Homo sapiens: one gene and its partners. The protein of the gene in region 1 interacts with the protein of each later gene in a biochemical or structural test. Each region holds a gene or a part of one and is shown in the gene's direction. Other genes may lie near its edges. The genes, in order: MAST2, RPS6KA1, ZNF831, ZSCAN30, XKR7, SLC22A11 and FCHSD2.

What was found.
Region 2: the proteins of MAST2 (region 1) and RPS6KA1 interact in a test that uses a peptide from one of them, tested with the Homo sapiens proteins (2 studies listed by BioGRID and IntAct, with this or other methods).
Region 3: the proteins of MAST2 (region 1) and ZNF831 interact in a test that uses a peptide from one of them, tested with the Homo sapiens proteins (one large-scale study listed by IntAct).
Region 4: the proteins of MAST2 (region 1) and ZSCAN30 interact in a test that uses a peptide from one of them, tested with the Homo sapiens proteins (one large-scale study listed by IntAct).
Region 5: the proteins of MAST2 (region 1) and XKR7 interact in a test that uses a peptide from one of them, tested with the Homo sapiens proteins (one large-scale study listed by IntAct).
Region 6: the proteins of MAST2 (region 1) and SLC22A11 interact in a test that uses a peptide from one of them, tested with the Homo sapiens proteins (one large-scale study listed by IntAct).
Region 7: the proteins of MAST2 (region 1) and FCHSD2 interact in a test that uses a peptide from one of them, tested with the Homo sapiens proteins (one large-scale study listed by IntAct).

Annotation. Positions count from the first base shown.
Region 1 is NC_000001.11:46,030,612-46,033,616, forward strand, and holds part of MAST2 (microtubule-associated serine/threonine-protein kinase 2), read left to right. Parts: coding exon 1-150; intron 151-395; coding exon 396-679; intron 680-779; coding exon 780-974; intron 975-1,566; coding exon 1,567-1,793; intron 1,794-1,984; coding exon 1,985-2,107; intron 2,108-3,005. UniProt on the Homo sapiens protein: Appears to link the dystrophin/utrophin network with microtubule filaments via the syntrophins. Phosphorylation of DMD or UTRN may modulate their affinities for associated proteins. Functions in a multi-protein complex in spermatid maturation.
Region 2 is NC_000001.11:26,567,761-26,571,260, forward strand, and holds part of RPS6KA1 (ribosomal protein S6 kinase alpha-1), read left to right. Parts: intron 1-3,500. UniProt on the Homo sapiens protein: Serine/threonine-protein kinase that acts downstream of ERK (MAPK1/ERK2 and MAPK3/ERK1) signaling and mediates mitogenic and stress-induced activation of the transcription factors CREB1, ETV1/ER81 and NR4A1/NUR77, regulates translation through RPS6 and EIF4B phosphorylation, and mediates cellular proliferation, survival, and differentiation by modulating mTOR signaling and repressing pro-apoptotic function of BAD and DAPK1.
Region 3 is NC_000020.11:59,166,821-59,170,320, forward strand, and holds part of ZNF831 (zinc finger protein 831), read left to right. Parts: intron 1-3,041; exon of another isoform or gene 3,042-3,500.
Region 4 is NC_000018.10:35,283,730-35,287,229, reverse strand, and holds part of ZSCAN30 (zinc finger and SCAN domain-containing protein 30), read left to right. Parts: intron 1-3,500. UniProt on the Homo sapiens protein: May be involved in transcriptional regulation.
Region 5 is NC_000020.11:31,974,651-31,978,150, forward strand, and holds part of XKR7 (XK-related protein 7), read left to right. Parts: intron 1-3,500.
Region 6 is NC_000011.10:64,569,441-64,572,940, forward strand, and holds the end of SLC22A11 (solute carrier family 22 member 11), read left to right. Parts: intron 1-211; coding exon 212-418; intron 419-1,538; coding exon 1,539-1,602; 3' UTR 1,603-3,435; downstream 3,436-3,500. UniProt on the Homo sapiens protein: Antiporter that mediates the transport of conjugated steroids and other specific organic anions at the basal membrane of syncytiotrophoblast and at the apical membrane of proximal tubule epithelial cells, in exchange for anionic compounds.
Region 7 is NC_000011.10:72,978,319-72,981,818, reverse strand, and holds part of FCHSD2 (F-BAR and double SH3 domains protein 2), read left to right. Parts: intron 1-3,500. UniProt on the Homo sapiens protein: Adapter protein that plays a role in endocytosis via clathrin-coated pits. Contributes to the internalization of cell surface receptors, such as integrin ITGB1 and transferrin receptor.

The DNA of each region.
Region 1 (3,005 bases):
CAGCAGCATGGAGCGGCTCTCACTGCTCGAGGAGCGCCGGACACCACCCCCGACCAAGCGCAGCCTGAGTGAGGAGAAGGAGGACCATTCAGATGGCCTGGCAGGGCTCAAAGGCCGAGACCGGAGCTGGGTGATTGGCTCCCCTGAGATGTGAGCACCCAGAGTTCACCCAGGGTGGGCGACACAGCTATCCCTGCATTGTCACAGATCATGGGAGAGATTCCGATGCCAGGGAGGAGTGCAGGTGGCAGGGAGGGGGCATTCACAAGGGTGGCTCCTGGAGGAATGTCTGCGGAGGAAAGTTCTGTTACTATAACCCTTGTGTGCCCCTAAGGAGACCTGGCAGGAGGAGGGGGACCACCTGGGTCACTCACCCCAGGCCTTGTGTCTCATAGATTACGGAAGCGGCTGTCGGTGTCTGAGTCATCCCACACAGAGAGTGACTCAAGCCCTCCAATGACAGTGCGACGCCGCTGCTCAGGCCTCCTGGATGCGCCTCGGTTCCCGGAGGGCCCTGAGGAGGCCAGCAGCACCCTCAGGAGGCAACCACAGGAGGGTATATGGGTCCTGACACCCCCATCTGGAGAGGGGGTATCTGGGCCTGTCACTGAACACTCAGGGGAGCAGCGGCCAAAGCTGGATGAGGAAGCTGTTGGCCGGAGCAGTGGTTCCAGTCCAGGTATGGCCCAGTGGGCGGCCAAACGACCTAAGCTGGAGGATACTGCAGGGCAGGGAGGCTCAGCGGCATCGCGGGTCTCACTGCTTACTTGGGCCTACAGCTATGGAGACCCGAGGCCGTGGGACCTCACAGCTGGCTGAGGGAGCCACAGCCAAGGCCATCAGTGACCTGGCTGTGCGTAGGGCCCGCCACCGGCTGCTCTCTGGGGACTCAACAGAGAAGCGCACTGCTCGCCCTGTCAACAAAGTGATCAAGTCCGCCTCAGCCACAGCCCTCTCACTCCTCATTCCTTCGGGTGAGGCCCCTGGGGAGCTGGGATAAAACTCACAGGAAGGGCCTTGTAATCTCTAGGCCTTGGGAGGGTTCTGCACGTGGCAGGTGTGTGTGTGTGTGTTAAGCACAGATCTGACTGTGGTCTCTGAAGGTGTGTATTGGTGTCTGGGGTTGTGTATACATGTGCCAGAAAGCAGGACAGCACCATGTCACAAGTGCAGGCTTTGGGGTAGAGAGCTCACACTCAAATCCTGGCTCCATCACTAACAGGCTCTTGACCTTGAGCAAGTTGCTTAACTTCTCTAAGCCTCAAGTTTCTTATCCAAAAATGTGGATATAATAGAGGCCAGCTGATAGGTTGTGACATTTAAATATATATGACAAGCTTATATAGTCCCTGATACACACATAAATGCTAGCTGCCATTTCTCATCACCACCACCGTCTCTTGGGGTCTGGACACGGGAGAGGGCTTCACAGGTCAGGGGCTGTGGGGAAAATGGACCTAGGCTCAGGCTCTGTCTGTGACTAGAGTTGTGCTGACATCAACAGACTGGACCAGGGGCCAGGCCAAAGCCCTCTGACCCACTAAGTCCTGGCTTCTCCTTCTCCAGAACACCACACCTGCTCCCCGTTGGCCAGCCCCATGTCCCCACATTCTCAGTCGTCCAACCCATCATCCCGGGACTCTTCTCCAAGCAGGGACTTCTTGCCAGCCCTTGGCAGCATGAGGCCTCCCATCATCATCCACCGAGCTGGCAAGAAGTATGGCTTCACCCTGCGGGCCATTCGCGTCTACATGGGTGACTCCGATGTCTACACCGTGCACCATATGGTGTGGGTATGTCTGACCATCCAGACCTGCTGTCTCCCTGCTTCATCATCCTTCCAGCTTCCCCTTTGTGGAGCCCATCTGTCCCTGCTCGGGGGTCAAAGGGTGGTGGTGAAGGGGCTCACAGCTTAATGTCCAGAACCAGGCCCCATACTTCGTGTTCAGGCTCCAGTCTGAGTACTGTTCTCTTCCTGGCACAGCACGTGGAGGATGGAGGTCCGGCCAGTGAGGCAGGGCTTCGTCAAGGTGACCTCATCACCCATGTCAATGGGGAACCTGTGCATGGCCTGGTGCACACGGAGGTGGTAGAGCTGATCCTGAAGGTTAGTGCTGGGCGTGCTGCCTGCATGGTCCCTGAATGACCTCAGCCTGTGAGTCTGTGATGGCAGTTAGGGGAGTGGGTGAGTTGGGTGCACACACATCTACACCGAGTATGGATGTAGGTACACACAGGCCGGGCGCGGTGGCTCATGCCTGTAAATCCCAACACTTTAGGAGGCTGAGGCAGGTGGATCACTTGAGACCAGAAGTTTGAGACCAGCCTAGCCAACATGGTGAAACCCTGCCTCTACTAAAAATACAAAAAAAAAAAAAAAAAAATGCCTGGGTGTGGTGGCTCACGCCTGTAATCCCAGCACTTTGGGAGGCCGAGGCGGGTGGATCACCTGTGGTCAGGAGTTTGAGACCAGCCTGCCCAGCATGGCAAAACTCTACTAAAAATAACAAAAATTAGCCAAGCGTGGTGGTAGGCACTTGTAATCCCGGCTACTCGGGAGGCTGAGGAAGGAGAATTGCTTGAACCTGGAAGGCAGTTTGCAGTGAGCTGAGGTCATACCACTGCACTCCAGCTTGGGAGACACAGCAAGACTCTGTTTCCAAAAAAAAAAAAAAAAATTAGCCGAGTGTGGTAGCACATGCCTGTAATCCCAGCTACTTGGGAGGCTGAGGCAGGAGAAGTGCTTGAACCCAGGAGGCAGAGGTTGCAGTGAGCTGAGATCGCACCACTGCACTCCAGCCTGGGTGACAGAGTGAGACTCTGTCTTAAAAAAAAAAAAAAAAGATGTAGGTACACACAGAACTTGAATGTGGCACAACAGAGAGTTTTCTCCACAAGGCAGTACCCTCCCTGACTAAGGCCCAGGGATCCTTCTGAGCTGTGGGTAGGGCTGCAGAATGGGACGGATTAGCCTGTTTTCTACCTTCTTACCCCAAACCACTCTG
Region 2 (3,500 bases), about 19 Mb from region 1:
GGTTACTGTGATGTCCATCATTTCCCAAGCCCTTTGCTAAATATTCCTGTCCTTCTCTATAAGCCTGGGGTTGAATACTATTATCAGCCCCATTTTACAAGTGAGGAAACTGAGGGCTACAGATGTTAAATGTCGTGCCCAAAACCACACAGCTGTGAGTGGATAGTAAAGCCAGGATTCACACCCTGGCCTGCCCGACTCCTTCCTGTGACTGGAATCCCAACTCTCCTGGAGGTCACGGCCTATTGCTCCAGTGCCTGCATTTGGCCTACACATATATTTTGTTTGGCCTGCAAGATAAGGGGTGTTTTTTGATTTGAGGTATGGTTTAGTAAGGTTTGGTAATTTGGCTGCTTTTAAAAACACTGGGTCCGAGTTGCTATGTAGTGACTGTCAGCTGGAGCCAGGTAGCTGCTGTCCTCTGTGGACTGCTTGGAGGTTCCCACTCTGCCTGGCTTCACTCATTACTTGCCCAGCCTGTTGTGATTTTCCATGCGGTGAGATGTGAGACTATACTTTTCCTCCCCCAACATACACTCCTGAGGGTCAGGTATCAGAATCACCTGTGGGGCTTTTTAAAGCTGTACTTCCCCTCCCCCACTCACCATCCCTACTATTCTGCCACTGGCAGTGGTGAGACAGTTTCCTATAGGAATTTGTAGTTTCTCTATGTTGTATTAGGGTAGGAAAAAAGATCAACAACTTGAGCCGGGCGTGGTGGCTCACGCCTGTAATCCCAGCACTTTGGGAGGCTGAGGCAGGTGGATTGCCTGAGGTCAGCAGTTCGAGACCAGCCTGGCCAACATGATGAAACCCCATCTCTATTAAAAATACAAAGAATTAGCTGGGCATGGTAGCAGATGCCTGTAATACCAGCTCCTTGGGAGGCTGAGGCAGGAGAATTGCTTGAGCCTGGGAGGCAGAGGTTGCACTGAGCCGAGATCACGCCATTGCACTCCAGCCTGGGCAACAAAAGCAAAACTCCATCTCAGAAAAATAAATTAATTTAAAAAAAAGGTCAACTTCCATATCCCTGTGTCCCAGTAGTGTCATGTGTGCCACACTAAACTGGAAAGACTATGGAATTCAGGTCAGAACTGGGTTCTGGTCTTGCCTCTGCCTCTAACCTACATGCAAGTGAGTTGTCCTCTCAGGCTGGGCGTAGTGGCTCACACCTGTAATCCCAGCACTTTGGGAGGCCAAGGTGGGAAGATCACTTGAGGCCAGAGTTTAAAACCAGCCTAGCCAACAGGGTGAAACCCTGTTTCTATAATACAAAAATTAGCCAGGCATGGTGGTGCACACCTGTAATTCCAGCTAACTGGGAAGCTGAGATATGAGAATTGCTTGAACCTGGGAGACGGAGGTTGCAGTGATCCAAGATTGTGCTGCTGGCGAGACTCCATCTCAAAAAAAAAAAAAAGAAAATTGTCCTCTCAGAGCTTTGGTTTTCTCCTCTGTAAAATGGAGCTAATAATTCCTGTCCACCCGCCGAGGTGCAGTGGATGGCTCCAGTGAGATCACGACTGGTAACATTCTTTGTAAACTGGAAGTTCACTTGTGCAGGGTAGTTGGTGTCCTCAGCCAAGCTGAGCATCCCTGACCTCTAGGTAGAGTCCACATTCCTGGGGGCCTGGCCTTGTGCTGTGGGCATACGATTGTGTTTGAAGGAGGGAGCCCACGGGACTTTCTCCAAGGCTTGGATACAGTGTGTTGCTGGGGCTACCCTAACAGTGTGGCCCTTTCCCCCTCATCTACCTGGCACTCTTCTCCCTATGGAGGTGGACTGTGCTGGGCCATGTCTACCTACTCCACGGGCTCCACGGGCATTGCTGGAGGGCTTGGAGATCAACTGAGACTATGAAAAGACTATCTGAATAAAACCAACTAACCTGCAAAACTCTACTAATCTAACCTGCAAGGTATCTGTCTCTGTGTTTCAGAGGTGTGATTTGTTCATTCATTGCACAAAGTTCACTTAGCATTTGCTCTGTGCTAGGCCCTGCACTGGGTGCTGAAGGTGAACGGGCATTCCACAGACATAGGGTTATGATCGTTACCGAAGGAGCCCCTGGTGGCCTGAGCTCAGGGCACCTGAGGGATGCAATGGACAGTGAGGCTGGAACAGATGATGGCTGTGCCTCCCATGTTAGGGTAGGGACTTTGGGCTTTATCTTGCAGGTAGGGAGCCTTTGAAGGTTTTTTGACAATGCCCAGGGAGGTTCCATTAGCTTAGGGGAGGAGGAGCAGGAAGATGAGAACATGAGGAGTTTAGTGTGGGATGTGTTGAGTTTGAGGCTCTGTGGAACATCCAGTGGTTGCCTTGTGGTAGGCAGTTGGATTTATGAGCCAAGACTCAGGAAAAGTTCTGGACTAGGGTTAGAGATCTGAGAGGTATTGGTAGTTGATAGTTAGAGGATTGACTATGAATGGAACTGTACAGGCCAGGCACAGTTACTCACACCTTTAATCCCAGCACTTTGAGAGGCCCAGGCAGGAGGATCACTTGAGCCCAGGGGTTCAAGAGCAGCCTGGGCAACATAGCGAGACCCTGTCTCTGCAAAAAATGTTTTAAAAATTAGCTGGGTATGGTGGCACATGCCTCTAGTCCCAGCTGCTTGCGAGGTCGAGGTGGGAGGATCACTTGAGCTCAGAGATTGAGGCTGCAGTGAGCCATGAATCATGCTGCTGTACTCCAGCCTGGGCAACACAGACCCTGTCTCAAAACAAAACAAAACAAAAAAGCCTTACAGAGTGTGGGGAGGAGAAGAATGAAATGTGGGGTGGTTCAGCCCCCTCAAGTTACAGATGAGCAAACAGGGCCCAGAGGAAAGCCGTTTGCTTATGGCCTCAGCAGTAAGTGTCATTCATCCATTCATTCAACAGATATTTATTGAATACCTGCCATGTACTAGGAGCTAGTTTAAGTGCTGGGATACAGCAGTGAGCAAAACACTCAGGGAGCTTACATGCCGGTGGGCAGACTCAGAAAACAAATTAAATATTATGTTAAGTAGTGGGAAGTGCTACAGATAAAAGTAAAGCAGTGTATTCTTTGATTTTAAAGATAAGGAAAATAGGGCCAGGCGTGGTGGCTCACGCCTGTAATCCCAGCACTTTGGGAGGCCGAGGCAGGCAGATCACTTGAGGTCAGGAGTTTGAGACCAGCCTGACCAACATGGTGAAACCCCATCTCTACTAAAAATACAAAAATCAGCCAGCCATGGCGGCGGGTGCCTGTAATCCCAGCTACTTGGGAGCTGAGGCAGGAGAATTGCTTGAACCCGGGAGGCGGAGGCTGCAGTGATCTGAGGTCGTGCCACTGCACTCCAGCCTGGGTGACAGAGGAAGACTCCATCTCAAAAAAAAAAGACTTTTAAGATTTTGACCTAAGTAACAGGAAGGATGGAGTTGCCACAAGGTAAGATTATGTGATGAGTAGGTTTTAGGGGAGAATTGAGAGTTCAGTTTTGACAGGTTAACTTAGAGCTACCTGTAGA
Region 3 (3,500 bases), on another chromosome or scaffold:
ATATTCATTGTTGAAGGGCATCTGGGCTGATGCCAATTTTTGACTATTACAAATAAAGCTTTAGAAACATTCATGTACAAGCTTTTGTGTGAACGTAAGTTTTCATTGTGAAATAAATGCCCAGGAGTGCAGTTGCTGGGTTGAATAATAGTCCCATGTTTGATTTGTTAAGAAATGGCCACCCTTTTTTCCAGAATGGCTGTGCCACTTCACATCCACACCGAAATGGATCCTGGCAACGTGGGCAGTGTTTCCAGATCCTCGCCAGCATTTGCTGTTTCACTATTTTTTATTCTAGCCATTCTGACAGGTGTGAAGTGATATTTTATTGTGGCTTTAATTTATATTTCCCAGGTGGCTAAAGATGTTGAACACCTTTTCGTGTGCTTATCTGCTGGCTGTATACCGTTTTTGGTGATAACTTGCTTCATGTGTTTGCACACTTTCTAATTGGATTGTTGTTGGTTTTTTTTTAACTGTTAAATTTTCATAGTTCTGTATAGATTTTAAATATAAGTCCCTTGTCAGATATGTTGTTTGTGAATACTTTCTCCAGATCTGTAGCTAGTTTTTTATTCTCTTATTATAAGCAGGGGTTTGCACAGAGCAAAAAAAAAAAAATTAACTTCGATGAGGTCCATTTTATTATATTTTCCTTTTATGGCTCATACTTTTTGTTTCAAGTCTAGGAACTCTTTCCCACTTTAGAAGTCCTAAAGATTTTCTCCTGTGCTTTTTTTCCCCTAAGCTTTTACAGTTTTATATTTCACATTTAAGACTGTTTTAAATATTTTGAGTTAATTTCTATATAAGTAAGATGTGAGGTTTAGGTCAAGGTTTTTTTTTTCTTTTTTCTTTTGCCTGCGGAAGTCAATTGTTTCAGCATCATTTGTTGAAACATCTACACTCTCTCTACAGAACTGCTTTCAACCTTTGTCAAAAAATCAGTTGGCTGAGGCAGGAGAATTGCTTGAACCCAGGAGGCAGAGGTTGCACTGAGCTGAGATCGTGCCACTGCACTCCAGCCTGGGTGACAGAGCAAGACTCCATCTCAAAAGAAAAAAAAATCAGTTGGGTATATTTGTGCAGATTGATTTATGTTTTTTTTTTTAATTATTTTGTTCTACTCATGTCTGTGTCTATTCTGACAATACAGTCTTGATTACTTTGGCTATATAATAAGTTATCAAGTTAGGTAGACTGATTCTTTACACTTTATTATCTTTCTTCAAACTTGTTTGAGTTATTCCAGTTCTTTTGCCTTTCTATATAAATTTTAGAATAATCTTGTCTATGCCCACAAAAATATCTTACTAGGGTTTTGATAGGAATTGCATTAAACCTGTATATCAATTTAGGGAGAATTGACATTTTTACTATGTTGAATCTTCCAATGCATGAACACAATATGCCTCTTTATTATTTAGACTTTATTTGAGTTAGTTCATCAGTGTTTTGTAGTTTTCAGTGCGTAAGTCTTGTACATGTTTTATTAGATTTACAACTACATATTTCGTTTTTCATTTAATTTTGGTTTTCAACCATTCATAGCTAGTATATAGAAATGTAATTGACTTTTGTGTGTTGATCTTGTATCCTGTGTCCTTGCTGCACTCACTTATTAGTGCGAGGAGGTTTTTTTTTTTTTTTTTTTGTAGATTCTTTGAGAATTTGTATGTAGACAATAATCTCATCTGCAAGTAGGGATAGTTTTATTTTTTCATTTCCTGCTTGCAAGTCTTTCCTTTCCCTGTATTTTGTATTTCTTTCTTGCTTTATTTTACTGGCTAAAACTTTCAGTCATCTTCTGAATGAGAGTGATGAGAGTGGACATCTTTCTTTTTCCTGATCTTAGGGAGAAAACATTCAGTTTTTCACCGTTAAGTATAATGTAAACTTTGGTGTTTTGTAGATGCTTTTAATCACATTAAGAGATTTCCGTCTATTTCTATTTTCCAACGAGATTTTATTATGAATGGGTGTTGAATTTTGTCAAAAGCGTTTTCTACATCAATTGATATAATTATGTGATTTTTCTTTTTACCCTGTTAATATGGTGGATTATACTGAATGCATTCCTGGAATCCTTGTTCAAGGTGTATAATTTTTTTCTTATCACAGAATTCTATTTGCTGATATTTTGGGAGAGGTTTTGAGTCTGTGTTCATGAGGGATATTCGTCTGTAGTTGTCTTTTCATGCTGTCTTTGTCTAGTTTGGTCGCAGGGTAATACCTAGGTGCTTAAAATTAACTGGGAAGTGTTATTTCCTTTTCTGTTTTCCGGATAAAGTTGCGTCGAATTTGTGTTAATTCTTCTTTTAAAGTTAGAATTCTCCACATCAGGGCCTGGAGACTTCTTAGCAGGGAGCTTCAAAATTGCAAATTCAATCTGATAAATAGTTATAGTGTGATTCTCATGTGATTCAAATGATCTGTTTCCCATTAGGTGGATCATGGTAGTTTGCGCTTTTTGAGGAATTGGTCCACTTCATCTAAGTCATCAAATTTATGTGAGCTGAGTTATTTACGGTATTCCCTTAAGGTCATTTTAATGTCTGCAGGGTCTGTAGTGATAGCCCATTTTCCTTCCTGACATTGATAGTTTGTGTCTTCTCTCATTTGTCCTTTGTCAGTTTTTGTAGAGATTCTAAAGACCAATTTTAGGCTGGGCACAGTGGCTCATGCCTATAATCCCAGCACTTTGGGAGGCTGAGATGGGTGGATCACTTGAGGCCAGGAGTTCGAAACCAGCCTGGCCAACGTGGTGAAATCCTGTCTCTACTAAAAATACAAAAATTAGCCCGGTGTGGTGGTGCGCACCTGTAATCCCAGCATGTTGCAAGCTGAGGCAGGAGGATCAGTTGAGGTCAGGAGTTTGAGACCAGCCTGGCCAACATGATGAAACCCTATCTCTACTAAAAATACAAAAATTAGCCGGGCATGATGGCAGACACCTGTAATCCCAGCTACTCGGGAGGCTGAGGCAGGAGAATGTTTTGAACCCAGGAGGCAGAGGTTGCAGTGAGCCAAGATCATGCCACTTCACTCTAGCCTGGGCAATAGAGCAAGACTCTGTCTCAAAAAAAAAAGGTGAATTTTATTAATCTTGTCCAAGAAAAAGCTCTTTCTTTCATTGATTTTCTCTATTATTTTTCTGTTTTGATTTGACCTATTTCTTCTCCTACCTTTATTATCTCCTTTCTTCCGCTTGCTCTGGATTTATTATGCTTTCCTTTTACTACAGTCAAGTGGGAGTCTAGAGTCTTGATTTGAAACCCTCCCTCTTTTTCTTTTTCTTTTTAAACAATTAATAGCAGTTTATTTTAAAACATTTTTGTGGGTACATAGTAGGTGTATATATTTGTGGGGTACATGAAATGTTTTGATACAGGCATGCAGTGTGAAATCATCACACTGTGGGAAATGCTCCTCTTTTCTAATGTAAACATTTAGTGCTATAAATTTCCCTCCCAGCACTGCTTTAGCTATGTGCCACAAAT
Region 4 (3,500 bases), on another chromosome or scaffold:
CATGTTAAAGCAATATTGAGTCATCTGATCCATGAACACAATATTTTTCTCAATTTATTTAGGTCTTCCTTAATATCTCTCACCAATATTTTATAGTTCTTTTTAATATTTTACAGATCTTTCATAACTTTTGACAGATCTATTCCTAAGTATTTAATATATTTTGATGCTATTGTATTTTTCCTTTAATTTCAGATTGTTTGTTGGTAATATAATAGAGAAATACAATTGATTTTTGTATATTAATCTTGTATCTTGCAACTTTGTTAAATTCATTTATTAGTTCTAGTAGCTGTTTTTGTAGATTCTATCAGATATTCTACATATGAGATCAGTTTTACTCCTTCCTTTCCAATCTGGATGCCTTTCTTATTTTCAGCGCAGTAAGGCAGGCAAAGGGAGGTGGAGAAAGGCATTCAGATTGGAAAAGAAGAAGTAAAATTGATCTTTATGTATATCAGTGTTCGGTAGAAATGAAGAAAGGGGAAATCTTTGTCTTTTTTCCAATCTTAAGTGAAGATCTTTGTCTTTTTTTTTAATCTTAAGCATCCTTTCTCTGTTAAGCATGATGTTAGCTGTGGTTTTTTTTATTGGTACCCTTTAACAGACTGAGGAAGTTTTTTTCTAATTCTAGTTTGGTGAGAATTTATATCAGGAATGTAGGATGGATTTTGTCAATTGCCTTTTCTGTATCTTTTGAGAAGACAGTTTGTTAATATGGTGATTTACAATGATTGATTTTTGAACATTAAACCAAACCTGCATTCCTGTAAAAAACCCTGCTTCACTGTGATGTATTATCCTTTTTATATATTGTTGGATTTTTCATGAAGAATATTGGCCTATAGTTTTCTTGTAATGTCGTTGTCTAGTTTTGGGATCAAGGTAACGTGGGCCTCAAAGAATGATTCAAAAAGCATCCCATTGTCTTCAGTATTGTTGAAGAGTTTGTACAGAATTGGTATTATTTCTTCCTTAAATATTTGGCAGAATTCACAGTGAACCTATCTGGACCTAGAGTTTTTTTGTGGGAAGGTTTTAAATTACAAATTCAGTTTCTTTAATAGATATGGTGCTATTCAGGTTATATATTTCTTATAGGGTAAGCTTTAGTATTTTGTATCATTTAAAGAATCAGCCAATTTTGTATAAGTTGGCATAAAGTTGTTTATAATATTACTTTGTCCTTTTTGTATCTGTTGAATCTGCAGTGATGTTACCTCTTTCATTCTTGCTATTAGTAATTTGTATCTTCTCCCATTTCCCCTTGTCGGATAGGCCAGAGCTTTGTCATTTTTATCTTTACAGAGAACCAGCTTTTCATTTATTTAAAAATTGTCTTTCATTTTCTGGTCTATTAATGTCCACTCTGTTCCTTATTATTTCCTTTTTTCTCCTTGCTTTGGGTTTAACTTGCTTTTTTTTTTCTGGTTACTTTAAGTGGAAGTTGAGGCCTCTGATTTGTAATATTTCTTATTTTGTGTTATAGAAATTTGGTGCTATAAATTTTCCCCTAAGTACTGCCTTAGCAGCATCTCACAAATTCTGATGTGTTGTCTTTTTATTTTCATTCAGTTCAGAATACTTTGAACTTGGATTATTTCAGTTTCTAAATATTTGGGGGGTTTCTAGAGATTTTTCTGATATTTATTTCTAATTTAATTTTATTGTAGTCAAAGAACATACTGTGTATGACTTGAATCCTTTAAAATCTATTGAGACTCATTAATGGCCCAAAACATGGTCTGTCTTCATAAATGTTCCATGCACATTTGAGAAGGATATATTAATATATTCTGCTGCTGTTGGGTTGACTATTTGATTATTGTTAGTTGGTTAATGGTATTACTGAAGTTTACTATATACTTTGCTGATTTTCTACTAATTTTAAAAGTAATTATTGAAAGATGAGTATTGAATTCTCTGTCAATAATTGTGGTTTTGTCTATTCTCCTTGTGATTCTATCAGTTTTAATTTTATGTATTTTGAAGCTCACAATTTGCATAAATGTTTAGGATTGTTATTCCTTTTCCTTTTTCTCTTTTTTTGAGATGGAGTCTCTCACTCTGTTGCCCAGGCTGGAGTGTTGTTGATGGCAACAGTGGGCCATCTGGACCATCTGGAGTGGCCACTGCCAAGATGCTGGCTGCAGCCAGGAGGCTCTGCCCATGCTGTGAGCTTCACAGAGCCAGAGGGAGCGGGGACAAGCAGGAGCCCAGCTCCTTCCAAGTTGGCGGGTGGGAGCTCCCCAGGCATAGCTGCAGCTGCCCAAGTCATGGCTGCTGGCTGAGCCTCCCTGTGTTCTTGGAGACCAGGAGCAGGCAGGAGCCCTGCTCTCCTGGGTGCAACTGCAGCCACCCAAGTCCTTGCTACAGACCGTGTTCTTGGAGGCTGGGAGCAGGCAGGAGTGCCAAAGCAGGCAGGAGTGCTGGAGCAGGCATGAGCCCTTCCTGCATCCCCCACCTCCTTTGTGCAGCTGTAGCCACCCAGGTTGTGGCTGCGGACCAACCTGGATATCTCTGCACTCTAGGGGCCTGGGAAGGCACCCCCACCTCAGCAGGCTTGGAGGTATCTGCTTCTGCTGCCTGGCCTCTCCCTGCTCCTGGTGACTGCTCTGATCTAGGAGCAAGGTTGGGGCCGAGCCAGGGTGCTGTTGCAGCCCAGCCAGTTGTGCGCATACTTGAGGCAGTGCTGACAGGCCATTCCTCTGCTGCTTCAGCCCCCTCCAGACTTTGGGTGCTGACAAACATAGAAGGGAGGCTGAGGGAAGGCTGAAGGCAGTTCAGCATTTGCCTGCAGGTGCTTGTCCCCACGAACAGCCTGGGCACCATAGAAAGCAGTAGGAGGCGACATGCTCTGAGGCAGAAAGGGGCGGGTCCCCAGAAGGCCTGAAGCCTAATGGCCAGGCCACCAGTCCCCCTGACTGGAGGGGGAACTGGTGGTGCTTTTTCTTGGACCTGCCCATGGCCACCAATGGACCAATCAGCATGCACTTCTTCCTCTCTGAGGCCCATAAAATTCCCTGGACTCAGCCAGACTGGGGGAGAAGACCTGCCAGCAGAGAGGAGCTACCTACTCCAGGGCCTCTTTTCTGCTGAGAGCTGCAGAGACAACAGGAGGACCAACCTGCAGAGAGGAGCTACCCACTTCAGGGCCTCCTCTTTGCTGACAGCTGCAGCGATGATGGGACAAGCTGCCTGCAGAGAGGAGCTACCCACTCCAGGGTCTCCTCTGAGCTATTCTGTTGCTCAGTAAAGCTCCTCCTTCTCAGTAAAGCTCCTCTTCACTTTGCTCAGCCTCCACTTGTCTACATACCTCATTCTATCTGGATGCAGGACAAGAACTTGAGACCTGCTGAATGGTGGGGCTGAAAGAGCTGTAACACAAACAGAGCTGAAACATGCCCCTTGCTCACCACATTGCAGGCAAAGAGGAGAGAAGAGCTGTGGCCCTTCAGGAAGCCCAGACCAGGAAGCTCCCTGAGCCAGGATTGTGACTC
Region 5 (3,500 bases), on another chromosome or scaffold:
TCAGGGGTTGGATTCCATCATTTTCAAACTGTGTTTTATAGCCCTGTCTCCATCATTTTAACCCAAGTATCTCTGAATGTCTCTTTTATGACATGTCTAAGATTTTGTTTTGAATAATCTGTCCTACAGCTGACACTTGATTACAGTCCCCTGAACTCAGTGACCATCCATGAGGTTCCTCCCTGCTCTGCCTTTGTAGGGTTGTTCCAGTTTGGGCCTCACCACTCACCTCCTGGGAGACCCCTCTCCAGGAGGCTCTCCACCCCCACCCTGCCTCCTCCCCTTGCCCATCCAGCTGCCATGGACCATTAGAGCTGCTCCTAACAGACACAGCGGCGGCGGTTGGGCCCAGCGTCCCCTGTTTGATCTATAAAGACCACACAGGAGAAGCTCTGGGGAGTGGGAGGGCGGAGGGCTGCCAGGAAATGGCTTTGAACCCAGCATCTGGGGCGCAGGTCCCTGGGGAGAGGAGGGAGGATGGTTGGGATCTTCTCTGGCCTCTCTGTTCACCACCCTGCCTTTGTTAGGGCATCCAAATTCCTCCCCTGGGAAATCCTATCAGCCTCCGGTTATCACCCCCAACCCCCAATCCCGCCTCCACCTGCAGGCAGAGCGATGGCTCCCCTATGTCCCTAGAGCAAGTCCCTGTGCTTTAGCCTGGCTTTGAGGCCCTTTGCCCCCTGATCTTTTGTCTTTCCTCCCTGCTCTACCCACATGACAACCTGCTCCCCACCCCCTTGCTCTCCATTGCCTGCAGTCCTTCCTCCAGCAACACCCAACACCAGTTTCCAGTCTCCTCCCAGTGAAATTCTGCACGTCCTTCCAGGCTGAGCTCAAATGCCACCTCTTCTAAGAAGCTTTCTCTGAACAAATCCCACACATGCTACCCTCTGCCCCCCAGAAACCACCTCCCACTCACTCAACCAGGCAAAAGTCATTGTTCTAAAGTGGAAAATGTTTGGCTGTTTTGTCTGTTGATCAAAAAGCTATACATTCTTGTTGAAACCTCAGGCAATATAGAAAAGGCATAAAGAGATTCCCCTCTGCTCATTATCTCTTGGGGCGGGAGGGGTGGGGTCAGGGGAGATTTCCACTTATTAAGTAGATATTTCTTGCATTGCTTGAAGATTTTGCCTCTGGTTTTCAGTTAGCTAAAAAAATGCATGTATAGATTTGTCTATTTTTTAAAAATCAGTATAAAAATGAAATTTATTATACTTACTGTTTATTAAGACTTAGATTCGATCATTTCTCTTGACAATCCTGCCAGGTAGAGACTGCGAGGATGAAGAAGAGAACTGTAGACCCAAAACCCTGGCTCTGCCACATATGAGCTGTGTGGCTTTGAGCAAGTCACTTAACCTTTCTGGACCTCAGCTTTCTCATCTGTGAAATGGGCATCATAACAATCCCTACCCAGGTCTCCATTGTGAAGGCTGATTCAATTAATATATATGTGCTCTGCACAGTACTCAGCACATAGTGGTGCTCAGTTAGTGTTTGCTAGCATTATTGGCCCCATTTTACAGATGTGGAAATTGAGGCACAGAGAAGAGTGGCCTTCCAATTCATAAGGAGCAAAGCTAGGGTTTGAAGCCATGAGGTCAGGCTCCCAAACCCACATGTGGAACCACCAAACTATACTGTCTTCTGCTAGTTAAGTGTATTCTTACAAACAATCAATCATGTATTGTTTAGAGAAGCAGAAGAAAAAATATCAGAAAAGTATTTTTATTTTTTTTTATTTTTTTTGAGACAGAGTCTCGCTCTGTCTCCCAGGCTGGAGTGCAGTGGCTCGATCTCGGCTCACTGCAACCTCTGCCTCCCCGGTTCAAGCGATTCTCCTGCCTCAGCCTCCCGAGTAGCTGGGATTACATGTGCCCACCCCCACACCCAGCTAATTTTTGTATTTTTAGTAGAAACGGGGTTTCACCATATTGGCCAGACTGGTCTCGAACTTCTGACCTCAGGCGATCCACCTGCCTCGGCCTCCCAAAGTGCTGGGATTACAGGCGTGAGCCACCACACCAGGCCAGAAAAGTATTTTTAAATTTGTATTTTAATGTAAAGTCCCCACTGTTAACATTCTGGGTTCTTCCCCTCAGACTTCCTCCCCAGGCACAATTACTCATTCCTTTTTACCCCACAGCACTGATCACATTTTGTTGTGATCATCTACCCACCTGGCTGGCTTTCCCGCTGGATCACAAACCCCTGGGGAGTTGAGGCTTTGTTGCTTTTTCTTTCTGTCTCCCATGGTGACTAGCACAGATTAGATCCTCTGTTACTGTTGGTGGTCTTGCACCCAGCCAGCTCTAGTGAGGTCTATGGTGGGTTCTTGCAACATGAAGCCAGTTGAAGCTGGCATTTGGCAGGGTGCTGAATGTGCGAGCTTTCTGCAGTTGTGGACACAGCACTGAGGTCTGTTAGGCCTACATCCACAGCCTTTAAAACTGTCCACGGCCTAAGGCTAAGGAAAGAGGAGGTAGTAGGAACAACCCTGGGTTGGGTTCCCAGAATGATACAGTTGTGGCTGACTTAGGAGATGGAGGAAGTCAAGTTCCTTGTATGCAGTAGGTACTCAATAAATGTTGGTGTGAACTGGATTGAACCTTTGAGATCAGAATCTTGGACAAGTCACTTCGCACCTAGGGTTCAGTTACTCCATCTGTAAAGTAACTTCAGAATTCTGGTGAGTTTTCCTAGGACTTGGACAAGAAAGCAGAGTAGCTGAGAGCTTGGGGCACCAGCGCAGATCAAGGAGCCATGACATCCTAGTTGCGTGACCCTGGGGAAGTTGCTCCACCAGCCACAGCTCCTGTCTCATCTGTGAAATGGGGATAGTGATAGTATCCACATCTTAAGGTTTTTATAAGGATGTCTTGAGATAATGTAAATGCACAGGGCTTGTCACATAGTATATGCCCAGAAAACATCTACTACAATGACTATTATTATTGGCCCAAGTCACAGCCCATCCTACTTGCTTAGTAACAAGATGGGGTTAGGACAGGGGCATAAGGGGTCCTAACTCTCACCCACTGACCCCCTATCGAGGAAGGAGAGTTGTTCTATGGCTCCAGAGATACTGTGAGGGCAGATGCGAACTCAAAGTAAAGGGAGGCACAGTCTTTGGAATAGAAGCAAGAACACACTGTCAATCAGGCTGTTCCCGAGGGTGTGAACTCCACATCAGCAGAGGTGTCCAGATGGAAGTGGCTAACTTTGGCAGGGATGCTGTATCAGGGACTCTTGCTTCAGTCTGGAGGATAAACTAGATGATCTCTAAAGCCCCTTAGTTCTGTGTCTGTAGCTCTATCCTTGGGACTTTATGATACTCGCTTCCATGATGTTTAACCACCAGACCACAGGTTGCAAATCAGTGGCCTATGGGCAAATCCAGCCTCAAGAGTGTTGGTTTGGTCCGCAAAGGACTTTTTTCTCCTACTTTTTTTTTTTATTTTTTTTGCTTTTTGAGATGGTCACGCTCTGTTGCCTAG
Region 6 (3,500 bases), on another chromosome or scaffold:
GGGAAAATGAGGTGGGCCCTAGAGATTTCCCCTGAAACACTAGATGCAAAAATCTGGGTGGGCTCCGTGGAGGAGGTGGCATTAGAGGAGGCCTTGAGGAGGGCAATTCCCTCAGCCCAGCTTTCCTTCCCCTGGCATCTGTGAGCCCAGGATGTCTTCCTGCCACAGGGCCAGCTGTTACAGGGATCTGGGCCCTCCCCTTCACCCACAGGATGACAGCAGATGGCATTCTGCATACAGTGGGCCGGCTGGGGGCTATGATGGGTCCCCTGATCCTGATGAGCCGCCAAGCCCTGCCCCTGCTGCCTCCTCTCCTCTATGGCGTTATCTCCATTGCTTCCAGCCTGGTTGTGCTGTTCTTCCTCCCGGAGACCCAGGGACTTCCGCTCCCTGACACTATCCAGGACCTGGAGAGCCAGTGAGTGACCTGTGATCCCTGGGCATCGGGCTGGGCTTCCTCCTGGGCCAAGATGGAGACAGGCCTGGGCTGCCCAGGGCAAAGGCTCAAGAGTACCAAGGCCTGTGTTTCTGAAACCATTTAATCTTTCCAACAATCCTGCCAGAAATGTATTATTACTATCCCCATACTATTACTAGGGTCAGAGAAAGAAAGTGACTTATCCAAAGTCTCATGGGTAGAAAGTGATCATACCTCATGCAGGAAAATGTAATGGTTGAAAGCCCAGGCTTGGCAGCCAGGTTGCCTGGGCCCACGTTCCCCACCTGCCTGGGCAAGTGACTTAACCTCTCTCACCAAAACTGACAAAGGGAGATACAGATAGTCTCAACTGTCCTAGTGCAATTTTCCCACAAAGAATTTCAGGCCCAGACAGATCAACAGGTGAGTTCTTTCAAACCCTCAGAGAACAGATGGTGCCATCTCACACCCATTCTTTGACAGGGAGAAATGAGGGAGCACTCCCTGGCTGCATTTTATAGCCAGAACCACTTCTGTGGGCTTTAGCCTCCTCCTTTGTAAGATGGTGTTTAGAAAAAACAAACAAAACCCAGCCTGGCTCACAGAGTTGTTTTCAAGTTTAAGGGAAGTATTATTTTAAAGCACCTGGGAAAATGCCAGGCCTGCAGCAAGCACTCTGGACATGTGGTTATTGTGTCCTGGGTGACTGTTCACAGGGCCGCCTCAATTCTGATGGTGACCGAGGTCACAATGATAGTAATAATACTGAGTTCTTATTGTTTTATGTCACCTTATTTAATCGATACAACAACCACATGAGGTGCTATTACAGTCCAATTCCTTTGCCAAGGAAACTGAGATGCAGCAGGGTTATATAACTTGCCTAAGGACACCTGCAGAGACCCGGAGAAGCTGGGACTTCATTTTTTCTTTAATTTAATTGATTTTTGTTGTGTACCTACTATGTTTCAGGCACTGTCCCGCTTGGGTACACAGAAGGGAGTAAAAGCCTAATGCCATAGAGTTTACCCCCCAATAAGACTTGACCGCCATTTTGCCCCAAGCTCCGAGTACATACCCACTTCACCACATGGCACTGCTTTTCTTTGGATTATTCTAGGAAATCAACAGCAGCCCAGGGCAACCGGCAAGAGGCCGTCACTGTGGAAAGTACCTCGCTCTAGAAATTGTGCCTGCATGGAGCCCCTTTAGTCAAAGACTCCTGGAAAGGAGTTGCCTCTTCTCCAATCAGAGCGTGGAGGCGAGTTGGGCGACTTCAAGGGCCTGGCATGGCAGAGGCCAGGCAGCCGTGGCCGAGTGGACAGCGTGGCCGTCTGCTGTGGCTGAAGGCAGCTTCCACAGCTCACTCCTCTTCTCCCTGCCCTGATCAGATTCCCCACCTTACCCGGGCCCTACAGGAGCCTGTGCAGATGGCCATGCCCAACCAATAACGAGACGGTTCCCCTCCCTTTCCCTGCCAGGCTCATGTCTTTACACCTTCACTCAGCCACGCCAACCAGAGACTGGGTTCCAATCTCACCCCACCACATACAGAGCCCTCATCTGTGAAATGAGAATGATCACGTGACCCACCCCCCAGGGCAGGTATCAGGGTGAACTGATCTTAGCACCGGCCAAATAAATGGAACCTGCTGAGAGAGCTGCCAGATACAGGTGTCCAGGTTGTGCACTGGCCCGAGGCACGCAGCCAAGGAGGCGTGTGGGGTCTGAAACTCAGCCCCGGCTACACTGGCCCCACCACCCACCCTAGCAAAGGCTGTGTCCTCTCCAAAAAAAGGAGCTGTTTTAATCACTTTTCATTTACTCATCAGTGAGGGAGGGCTTCCAGCCCTATGGTTACGAAGACGGCCAAACACACCACCAAACACCAGACAGAGGAGGCTGGCAGCAGGTTACCACACACGTGCGCAGAGCCCACGAAGATGACGCTGCACTGAGGCATGGGGCGGGGTGCACTGAGGATCCGAGCGAGCAGCCAGGGCTGCAGGAAGGCAGCTTTGGAGCACAAAGGGGGTGGGGCAACTCCTGGCTTCTGCGGGAAGGTGTAATCAGCTTGTTTCATCATGCTGCAGGCTGGCGAGAAACGGAGCCTTACAAGCGTAGGGATAAGAGGAACCCCTCTTGGTCCCCTCGATGAGGGTTGTTGGGCCGGGGAGCCTCATCCACAGGGCGGAGTGAAAGGGGAGAAGGGGAGCTCACAGGCAGGCCTGCCAAGGCCTTCTGGCTTTGCCAGATGTCAAGGGCAGCACCTAATACTGAACCTTAACTTTCGGCTTTCAACCAAACGGCACCCTTTTGCTGTTTGTTTTCTGGAGGGGACACCTTTTCTTGATTCATGCCCAGACCTCCCTTGTCCAGGCCATGAAAACTCTGGGATGGTCGAGGCCGGCTGCCCATCTCAGATGGGCAAGGAAGCAAAAGTGCAGAGTGGTGGAGGGGCCAGCTTGCAGAAACACGGCCGAACCCGGCCCTGATCCTAGCCCAGGGCTCTTTCCAGCACAGGAGGCTCCTAGCCCTCGTCTCCAACCCTCCATGCCACTGATATCTGTGGCCCTGCCACAAAGTTACCCTCATGCCCTTCCCTGGAGACCCCACTCTGGGCCACCTCAATCTCAGGCCCCTCAACTCACCTCTTTCACCCTGTGTACACTGGGTCAATCACTCCTGCCTCCTCACAGCTCCCAAATCCACCTACTTCCCTTCACTCTGGCTACACCCTGGTTCACACCACGGTTGTAGCTCCAAACTGGTCCCTGATGTCTACATTGCACTCTGCACAACAGCCACCATGCTTATTAAGAAACGCAATCCAAACCAAATCCCTCCCTGCTGAAAGCCCTCCAGTGGCTCACAATAAGGATCACACTTCTCCCCCTGCCTGGTCAGGCAGCCATGGGACCCCAGCCTTTCCTCCCACTTCGGTAAATTTTAAAGGATTCGGATCATACAAAGAATGTTCTTGAACCAGCATGGAATTAAATTAGAAATCAATTATGGAAAGAGATATAGAAAACCTCTTCAAACTATACAACACACTTCTAAGTAACCCACGGGTCAAAGA
Region 7 (3,500 bases), on another chromosome or scaffold:
ATTTTCGCAGAGGCGTGGTCTCACTTTGTTGCCCAGGCTATTCTTTAACTCCTGGGCTTAAGAGATCCTCCCACCTCAGCCTCCCAAAATGCTGGGATTATAGGGGTGAGCTACTGGGCCTGGCTGGTTTTAGTATCGTATTAGGTATTACATAGTGCTTCAGACTTACAAGGACCAACAGTTTCAAAGAACACATTTACTAAAGATGATTTTTAGCACAGCTCGCACTTAAGGTTGTAATTCACTATATTCTATATATGTCTACTATTATATCAAAGCTGTATATTTTTCCCTATGAATATTTTTAAATGAACATTATATTAACTTAAGCAACAGCAAAAATAAAATCCTATTTTTTTTCTATTGGATCTACAGCTAAAAAAGATGGCCTTCAATAAACCAGAGAAAGTACATTCTTATTTGGGGGATCTGCTCTCTGCCTAAAGCAAAGAGGAAGTTAAAGGGCCTGGCCAGCTCACAGATTAATATATGTTCTCGAACTTACTTTGAAGTCTTTATGCATATATTTGATCAGCATTGGGTAGGTCATGCTTTGGAGTATTCATTTAATGAAACATTGTGGGGTACTAAACTGATTAAAAATAGAGGCAGGGGTTGGTCCCTCCTGCCCCTTAAAAATGAGAAAACATACTTTCAGTTTTCATGTACTGTACATTAACTCATTTTCTTCCTCATGCTAATTCTATAGTCTGCAGTACAGGAAAACTCCTATCAATCATGCTGTTAGCTACTTAGTAAATTTCCACCATTGAATTGTCAGTGGCCCTTAGATGCCTTTCTTGAAAATATCTGTTTTTCTGAATTAATGTTAAGGAAATATCTATTTTTCTGAATTAATGTTAAGGTGATAATGCCCTATATGGGTAGCTTAAAAGCAGGGTATTTGATTTGTTGGTTTAATCATACACATTTAAGAGCCTCTTACAGCATGCTAACTACTGAGTTAGGCTTTGGGAAGAGACAGATGAGTAAGACATACTACTTATCCTCAAAGAGCTCAATATGGTAGAAGAGAGTGAGATGTATATATATACATACACATATATATACACACACATATATACATATATATACACATACATATATATACATACATACATTATATATATATATATATATATACACACACACACATACACATACATATATACATGATTGCAAATTAGAGTGATGGAAATCACTTACTGCTGGAGGACTGTGGTTAGTAATAATAATAGCTATCTTTTTTATTGCTTAATATTGCCTTGGCATTATCCTAACCATTTAATACATGTTATCCTTTCTCATTTTCTTTGTTATCCTCGTTAAAGTTCATAGCTCATTATTTAAATAATACTCTAACTTATATTCTTATCTTTGCCCTTCTTCAAATGAAATGAAATTGTAACTCTGATGAGCCCCCATAACTGGATAATCTGTATCTAAGCAGCCAAGTACTGCTGAAGAAAAGTTTCGACGGAGCAGATTCATGATCATAAATTAATAGAGAAACCAGTGCAGCAGTTTCAACACTGCTTAGATGGCCTACTGTCTTTTCCCTAGTTAACTTTTCCTACTATTTTTAACAGTTATTTCAACTTTTCCCCCCTCTTCAAACCTCAAACTTACCCCTTCTCTTTTATGCTTAGCAAGTGGGTTTTCTTCCTAATTTACAGAGACGATAGAAACCGTTGGAAGACAGCTTCAATATTGTCCACTTCATCTGTGTTGAAGACTCTTCCAGAGTCTCAGTAGCAGTTGTTCCTGTCTAAAGGTGATCTTTTCACCTCAGCTTTGGATTATATCTCATCCCCTCCTGCCTTCTTAGGGAACAAAACAATTATTTTATGTTCTTTTCGTATTTCCTGGACATTCTGTTCTTACATTAGCAGTTATCTTGGTGATAACAACCCTCATTATGACTGTCTTTTGAGTTACATTCTTCTAATCTGGACTAGTTGCCCTCTGTGTCAGATGCAAGTATTTATCCTGAGATCTTCCTATATGTCTTTGTTGTGTTAGATCTCCAGTTTTCTTTATGATATGTCTTATTTTTTTCTTGATTTATACTGTCCTTTGGTAGAGCACATCCTCCAGTACCTTCTTGCGAAAGTGGGCATGGGAAGTAAGTTTTTTGAGATACTATGTTTATGAAAATGGCATATTATTTGCTTGTACTTGGATATAGAATTAAAGGTTGAAAACTCTTTCATTGAAACATTGGAGTCCATACCTCATTGTTTTCTTCTTTACTGTGTAAGTATTGAGAATCCAAAGCCATCCTAGTTCTTGATTATTTGTATCTGATCTAATTGTTTGTTTTTTCTTTTTTTAGAAGTTTATGGAATATTCTCAGTGTACCCTTTGATTTCTTGGATTAATTCTTCCCTTTTGTTTTCTCTTTCTGGAACTTCCCATTATTAAGATATGATATCTCCTAGCTTGCTTCTTTAAATTTCATTTCTTTCTTATTTTCCATCTTTGTCATTATGTTGTACTTTTTGGGAGACTTCTTCAACTTTACAGTTTCTTTTATTGGACTTTTAATTTTTTCATAGTAGTTTTAATGTATGAGAGTTCTGTTTTCTCCACATCCTTACCAGCATTTTTTATTGCCTGTTGTATTAGTTCGTTTTCACACTGCTTTAAAGAACTACCTGTGGCCGGGCATGGTGACTTACACCCATAATCCCAGCACCTTGGGAGGCCGAGGTGGGCAGATCACCTGAGGTCAGGAGTTTGAGACCAGCCTGCCAACATGGTGAAAATCCATCTCTACTAAAAATACAAAAAATTAGCTGTGTGTGGAGGCATGCACTTGTAGTCCCAGCTACTCAGGGAGGCTGAGGCACGAGAATCGCTTGAACCTGAGAGGTGGAGGTTGCAGTGAGCTGAGATCGCACCACTGCACTCCAGCCTGGGTGACAGAGTGAGACTTCATCTCAAAAAAAAAAAAAAAAAAAAGAAAGAGCTACCTGAGACTGGGTAATTTATGAAGAAGAAAGGGTTAATTGACTCAGTTCCGCATGGCTGGGGAGGCCTCAGGAAACTTACAATCATGGTAGAAGGCAAAGGAGAATCAAGTACCTTCTTGACATGGGGGTAGGAGAGAGGAAGCGAAGGGGGAAGTGCCACTTTTAAACCATCAGATATCGTGAGAACTCAGTCACAATCATGAGAACAGCATCAGGGAAATCGCTCCTATAATCCAGTCACCTCCCACAGGGACCCTCCCCCGATATATGGGGATTACAATTTGAGATGATGAGATTTGAGTGGGGACACAGAGCCAAACATATCACCTGTCTTTTGGATAAAAGTCATTTGACCTGGGATGACATGCTATCTAATTATAGTTTTGATTTATGTTTCTCTGATGGTCAATGATATTGAGCACCTTTTTATATGCCTGCTTGCCATTTATATGACTTTTTTTGAGAAATGTCTATTCAGATTTTTTGCTCATTTTTATTTTTTATTTTTATGTATTTATTTATTTT